Homo sapiens: one gene and its partner. The protein of the gene in region 1 binds, or shares a complex with, the protein of each later gene. Each region holds a gene or a part of one and is shown in the gene's direction. Other genes may lie near its edges.

The links.
Region 2: the proteins of NASP (region 1) and H4C15 are in contact, whole or in part, in a crystal structure (PDB 7V6Q), measured with the Homo sapiens proteins. Residues at the interface, in NP_002473.2 of Homo sapiens: Glu563, Gln566, Ser567, Leu569, Asn570, Glu573, His587, Leu590, Tyr594, Gln599, Glu602, Gln606, Lys609; in NP_001029249.1 of Homo sapiens: Arg96 (codon at 1,805), Thr97 (codon at 1,808), Leu98 (codon at 1,811), Tyr99 (codon at 1,814), Gly100 (codon at 1,817), Gly102 (codon at 1,823), Gly103 (codon at 1,826).

What each region holds. Positions count from the first base shown.
Region 1 is NC_000001.11:45,589,782-45,594,546, forward strand, and holds part of NASP (nuclear autoantigenic sperm protein), read left to right. Parts: intron 1-1,441; coding exon 1,442-1,489; intron 1,490-4,765. UniProt on the Homo sapiens protein: Component of the histone chaperone network. Binds and stabilizes histone H3-H4 not bound to chromatin to maintain a soluble reservoir and modulate degradation by chaperone-mediated autophagy.
Region 2 is NC_000001.11:149,860,264-149,862,650, reverse strand, and holds H4C15 (histone H4), read left to right. Parts: upstream 1-1,491; 5' UTR 1,492-1,519; coding exon 1,520-1,831; 3' UTR 1,832-1,887; downstream 1,888-2,387. UniProt on the Homo sapiens protein: Core component of nucleosome. Nucleosomes wrap and compact DNA into chromatin, limiting DNA accessibility to the cellular machineries which require DNA as a template.

The sequences.
Region 1 (4,765 bases):
TCCCAGCTACTTGGGAGGCTGAGGCAGGAGAATGGCTTGAACCCAGAAGGCAGAGGTTGCAGGGAGCTGAGATGATACCACTGCACTCCAGCCTGGGCAACAGAGAAGGACTGTCTCAAAAACAAAACAAAACTGAATCAGACATACCTATTGCCCAGATAGGACATGAACATCCATTTATAATTTTTATTCTGATCCAGTAGTCCTCAGAGCATGGTTCTAGAAACCAGCAGTGTGTCACCTGGGCAGTTGTTAGAAATGCAGATTCTTCAACCTTACCTCAAACCTTCTGACTCAGAAACTGTAGGGGGTGGAGCTCAAACTGTTATAACCGTTCCTCCAAATGGTTTGCATACAGACTAAAATTTGAGAAACACTGCTTTAATTCATCTTTTTTTCCAACTATACAAGTACTGCCTTAGTTCACCCTCTTTTCTATTTGTCTAGGCTTGTGCTAAGCAAGAATAGAAATAAATTTATCGGCCGGGCGCGGTGGCTCACGCCTGTATTCCCAGCACTTTGGGAGGCCGAGGCAGGTGGATCACGAGGTCAGGAGACGAGACCATCCTGGCTAACACGGTGAAACCCTGTCTCTACTAAAAATACAAAAAAATTAGCCGGGCATGGTGGCCGGTGCACAGGCACCGGCCTGGCACCAGGCCCAGGCTGAGGCAGGAGAATGGCGTGAACCCGGGAGGCGGAGCTTGCAGTGAGCCGGAGATCGTGCCAGGGCACTCCAGCCTGGGCGACAGAGCAAGACTCTGTCTCAAAAAAAAAAAAAAAAAAGAAAAGAAATTTATCACTGATAAATGCTTTACAATGATACTTAATAGTGTTTTTACTGGTTCCTTGCTTTTAATGGTATTCAATTCAGAGTCTTATATTGCAGTCATAGTGTAACTTTTTTTTTTTTTTTTTTTTTGAGACGGAGTCTCGCTGTGATATCTCCCTGACATTGTATTTAAAAAAACCTGTGTGTTATAGAAGGTTATATAGGGAAATAAAAGACCTAGTCCCTTAACCACAGGTAGTTTGAGAGGCTCTGTGCTAGACCATTTGGTCAGAATGACCTCTTAATAAAACTATTCGATATACATGACTGGCTGTGACGGAGTTTGTAGATAAGGATCCAAGACCATTTCAAGATTCTAGGCAAATGGCCCAGATAGCTTACAACCTGTAGCTGAAAGCACTGCCCTTTAAGTTGTTCCTCATCCCTGTGGTTATAGCTGTGAAGTTGCCACTTATTTTCAGCCCTGGATATTTGAGTGAGTAAGAATTAAATGAATTAAATTTGATAATGTAAGTAAGTAAATAATACTTGAGTATTTAATAAATGACAGCTCTTTTATTCCTTTATATTTTTCTGAATTTATTTTATTTTCAGGCTTAATAATTGCCTCCAGTTTTACATTTTTTCCCCTTTAATTTTTTATTACAGAATTGAAGATGTTCCTGCTCCTTCTACATCTGCAGATAAAGTGGAGAGGTAAGATTATTTACATGGTAGTTAGATTCGTATCAGAAACATAAACTAAGAGCAATATAACTTTAAAGTTATTTTTATTTTTTAATTAATTTATTTTTGATAGAGGCAAGGTGTCGCTTTGTTGCTCAGGCCGAAGTGCAGTGTGCAATCAGGGCTCACTACAACCTTGAACTCCTGGGCTCAAGCAATCTTCCCACTTCAACCTCCTGAGTAGCTAGGACTATAGGCACATGCCACTACACTTCGCTCATTTTTAAATTTTTTGGAGAGATGGGGTCTTGCTATGTTGCCAAGGCTGGTCTCAAACTCCTAGCCTCAAGCATTCCTCCCTGCCTAAGCCTTTCAAAGTGTAGGATTATAGGTGTGAACTACCAGGCCCGTCTCACCTCCTCCCCCTGTAACGTTTCCATCTTGATATGGCTATGGTTTTTTGTTTTTCTTTATCTCAGATCTACACCCGTAGTGACTATGTTTCTTAATCAGAGGTGGGCATAATAATTAACTAAAAAGCTTACCCAAAAGGTAGATGGTAGGTTACATCCCTAGAGATTTCTTGTTTCATTTTTTAGAGACAGGGTCTTGCTCTGTTGCCCAAGCTGGAGTTCAGTGATGTTATCATAGCTCACCACCACCTCGAACTCCCGGGCTAAAGGGATTCTTCTGCCTCAGCCTCCTGAGTAGCTGGGACTGTAGGCATGCACCACCACATCTGGCTAATTATTTTATTTATTTTTTAGACTGAGTTTCACTCTTGTCGCCCAGGCTGGAGTGCAGTGGCGCAATCTTGGCTCACTGCAACATCTGCCTCCTGGGTTCAAGCAATTCTGCCTCAGTCTCACAAGTAGCTGGGATTACAGGCGGGTGCCACTACACCCAGCTAATTTTTCTATTTTTAGTAGAGATGGGGTTTCACCATGTTGGCCAGGTTGGTCTTGAACTCCCGACCTCAGGTGATCTGCCCGCCTTGGCCTCCCAAAGTGTTGGGATTACAGGCGTGAGCCACTGTGCCCACCCGAATTATATTTTTCGAAGCGGAGTCTTGCTTTGTTGGCCAGGGTGGTCTCCAACCTGGGCTCAAGCAATCCCCCTGCCTTGGCTTCCCTAAGTGTTGGGATTACCAGCCTGATCTACCATGCCCAGCTGATTTTATTTGTTGAGCTTGAGATAAAATTTGGGTTCATGTGTTATGGAAAAGCTTTCTGATAAGATTGAGAATTATTACTGTTAGAATATCTTACAAATATTTTGTTTGTTTGTTTTTTGAGATGGAGTCTCACTCTGTCACCCAGGCTGGAGTGCAATGGCATGATCTTGGCTCACTGCAACCTCTGCCTCCCGGGTTCAAGCGATTCTCCTGCCTCAGCCTCCCAAGTAGTTGGGATTACAGGCACCCACCACCATGCCCGGCTAATTTTTGTATTTTTAGTAGAGACAGGGTTTCGCCATGTTGGTCAGGCTGGTCTCGAACTCCTGACCTCGGGCGATCTGCCCGTCTTGGCCTCCCAGAGTGCTGGGATTACAGGCGTGAGCCACCACACCCGGCCACAAATACATTTTTTAAGCGTCCATAGGGTTTTATGTTTTTCATGTTTGAAATCCTGTTGTCATCTTGGTTATTTAACCCTTTTCCCATTTGCCCTGAGAATACTTGCTGGTGGTGCTTGGGGCTGCTGCATTTACCCAGTGAAAACTGCCATGAAATAGCTCTCCTTTATTATTATTTTCACATCACTCTAATATATAGATTTTGGATAAAAAGACATCATTCTGTTTATAGCACTCTGTTTTTAGTAATGGTTATTTCCATTTACAAAATAGGGTAATTCTCGATTGCTGTAAATGTCAAATCCTAGAAAACGTAGCATTCCTATGTATGATGTTAACATCATTCTCAAATGGTTGTTGGCCAAAGATTCATTTGATGAATCCAATTTTTATGAAATAGGCGATTCTGATATTAGTTGTGTTTAGAAATAACTCCGGCCAGGCAGGTGGCTCATGTCTGTAATCCCAGCACTTTGGGAGACTGAAGTGGGCTGATCACTTGAGGTCAGGAGTTCAAGACCAGCCTGGCCAACATGGTGAAACCCTCTCTCTACTAAAAATACAAAAATTAGTTGAGCGTGGTGGCGGGCGCCTATAATCCCAGCTACTCGGGAGGCTGAGGCAAGAGAATCACTTGAACCTGGGAGGTGGAGGTTGCATTGAGCCAAGATTGTGCCACTGCACTCCAGCCTGGGTGACAGAGTGAGACTGTCCCCCCCCAAAAAAAAAAAAAAAAAAAACTCCGAGAACAGTTTTATATTTTTATTTTCATGCTGAAAGTCAGATTTGCTTCAGCTTCAAAGAACATGTTTATGTAAAATTAAATGAGTGCTGGCAATGAGCTGTACTTTTTTTTTTTTCTCTTAAACGGGAAAAGGGTTAAAATAAGTCTTATGAAATACTGCTTGGCTGGGTGTGGTAGCTTACACCAGTAATCCCAACACTTTGGGAGGCCAAGCAAGACCTCCATCTCTGAGAGGATCACATGACCCCAGGAGTTCGAGACCAGCCTGGGCAACATAGCAAGACGCCATCTGTACAAAAAAAAAAAATTTTTTTTTTAATTAACTGTTCGTTGTGGCACTTGCGTGTGGTCCCAGATACTGGGGAGGCTGAGGTAGGAGGATTGCGGAAGCCCAGGAAGTCGAGGTGGTGGTGAGCTATGATCCTGCCACTGCACTCTAGTCTGGGTGACAGAGTGAGACCCTGTCTCCAAAAAAAAAAGGAAAGAAACAAAATAGGGCTAGGCGCGGTGGCTCACGCACTTTGGGAGGCTGAGGTGGGTGAATCACCTGAGGTCAGGAGTTCAAGATCAGCCTGGCCAACATGGTGAAACCCCGTCTCTACTAAAAAAGATACAAAAATTAGCCGGTCGTGGTGGCTAGCGCCTGTAATTCCAGCTACTTGGGAGGCTGAGGCAGAAGAATCACTTGAACCCGGGAGGTGGAAGTTGCAGTCAGCCAAGATCACGCTACTGCACTCCATCCTGGGTGACGAGCGAAACTCTCAAAAAAAAAAAACAAACAACAACAAAATTTCTTGTGAGTTAATCTGGTATTTGGGTGGTATGAATACTGAATACTGTTTAGGGTTGATCCTAAACACAATACTTTCAAGGGGGTTACTCATAGGATGTACCATAGTATTTAAGTTTCTGGACTGACTAAATGTAGCTAGGCTATCCAAAACACAGTGCTTGATATGTAATCATCAGTATTAAACTTCACTGCC
Region 2 (2,387 bases), about 100 Mb from region 1:
GGGAGATTTTGAGTTTTGGGCTTAAAATGACTGAAGAACCACCAGGTGGATCTACGTGTCTCGAGTCCAGAAGTCTGAATACAGATTTACGATTTATGAGCACACAGAAGGTGGATCCAAGGGAGAGATTAAACAGGGCACAGAAGAGTTTTTAAAAATAATATTTTTCGGGAAAAAAACCCCAACAAAACACGATTCTTTCAGCAGAAACCAGAAGATTTTCTCATAGACTCTCCTACAGAGAGCCCTGATAAAGTAATAAACATGCTAACAGTAAGAACCCCAACCAATTTCATAGGGCAGTTTGCGGTAACTACTCCCAGTATGGAGCAGACAGTCCTCTTGCAAAACCCGATTTAGCAAACTTTGCTAGCTCCATGTGGGGCCTCCAAAGGACACAGCTGGGCACTAAATCCTGGCTGAAAACAAAGGCCGATTTAGAGGATCCGTAGAAACGGATGCACAGAATATCCCTCAGTCTTCTCTATGTAGCAGGCCCTCCATATACGCGGGTTCCCCAAGACCGAAAATATTAAACAAATGAATTTCTTTTTTAAAAAAAAGTACAACAAAAGATAGTAAAAATAAAAACAGTATAACAATTACTTACATAGCATTTACACTGGATTAGGTGTTACGAAGTAATTTAGAGACTATTTAAAGTACACGGGAGGATGTGCATAGTTATGTGCAAATACTACGCCACTTTCTATGAGAGACTTGAGCAACCTGGATTTTGGTATCGGCGGGGGCCCTGGACCAATCCCCTCTCAGTTCTACCGAGGGAGAACTGTTTTGTTTCTTCCAGCACGGCTTTGACCGACAGTGTGTTGGGATTCGCTGACGTCCATGAGAAAGCTTGGCAGCATGCTGAGACCAATTTTCCCAGGGCCAGAATTCTCCTGTGTGAGCTAAAATACAGTGGCTCGGTCCAACAAAACAGAGCCTGGAGCCAGGAATTATGGCGAACCTGCTCCCTCCCGTCCTCCCTTGGCGCACAGATCCCTGGCGCCGCCGCTCTTGAGGTCGCCTCTCGCGTGTCGACCTCATCGTCGGAACGGCGCTTCCTGAAGCTTTATATAAGCACGGCTCTGAATCCGCTCGTCGGGATTAAATCCTGCGCTGGCGCGCTCCTGCCAGTCTCTGGCCTCCATTTGCTCTTCCTGAGGCTCCCTCCAGAGACCTTTCCCTTAGCCTCAGTGCAATGCCTTCCGGGCGTCCTCAGACCAGACACAGGCCAAAGCCACTACAGAATCCGGAAGCCCCGGTTGGGATCTGAATTCTCCCGGGGACTGTGGCGTAGCGGTTAAAAAAAAAAAAGAGTGAGAGGGACCTGAGCAGAGTGGAGGAGGAGGGAGAGGAAAACAGAAAAGAAATGACGAAATGTCGAGAGGGCGGGGACAATTGAGAACGCTTCCCGCCGGCGCGCTTTCGGTTTTCAATCTGGTCCGATACTCTTGTATATCAGGGGAAGACGGTGCTCGCCTTGACAGAAGCTGTCTATCGGGCTCCAGCGGTCATGTCCGGCAGAGGAAAGGGCGGAAAAGGCTTAGGCAAAGGGGGCGCTAAGCGCCACCGCAAGGTCTTGAGAGACAACATTCAGGGCATCACCAAGCCTGCCATTCGGCGTCTAGCTCGGCGTGGCGGCGTTAAGCGGATCTCTGGCCTCATTTACGAGGAGACCCGCGGTGTGCTGAAGGTGTTCCTGGAGAATGTGATTCGGGACGCAGTCACCTACACCGAGCACGCCAAGCGCAAGACCGTCACAGCCATGGATGTGGTGTACGCGCTCAAGCGCCAGGGGCGCACCCTGTACGGCTTCGGAGGCTAGGCCGCCGCTCCAGCTTTGCACGTTTCGATCCCAAAGGCCCTTTTTAGGGCCGACCACTTGCTCATCTGAGGAGTTGGACACTTGACTGCGTAAAGTGCAACAGTAACGATGTTGGAAGGTAACTTTGGCAGTGGGGCGACAATCGGATCTGAAGTTAACGGAAAGCTACCGCGGCCCATAGCGCTCACAGCCGTAAAGACTTAAGTCGTTGACCGAAAGCGGCTTTTTCACTTACCTGGGCTTTTTTTTTTTTTTTTTTTTTTTTTAAAGCCTTTATCGGTATGAAAGGTTGAATGCTCTAGGTTTGAGCACTGCTTTCTCGGCTTGCTCTTCTGGTGCAGTATAGGCACACCTAGAGGGCCACGTCAGTCTTTGCGATCACCAAATCTGGTTCTGAGAAATAGGCACTGGCAATTTACACATGCCTTGCTGTGTAATCTCACTATATTTGCTCAGGCAAAGTGGGAGAAGCAGCCTTAGGTTTTCATTCTAGAGATGCCGGCTTTCCCACCTGATCGGCTTAGAGTTCACGATTGACTGTTTTGGGCTTCATTTC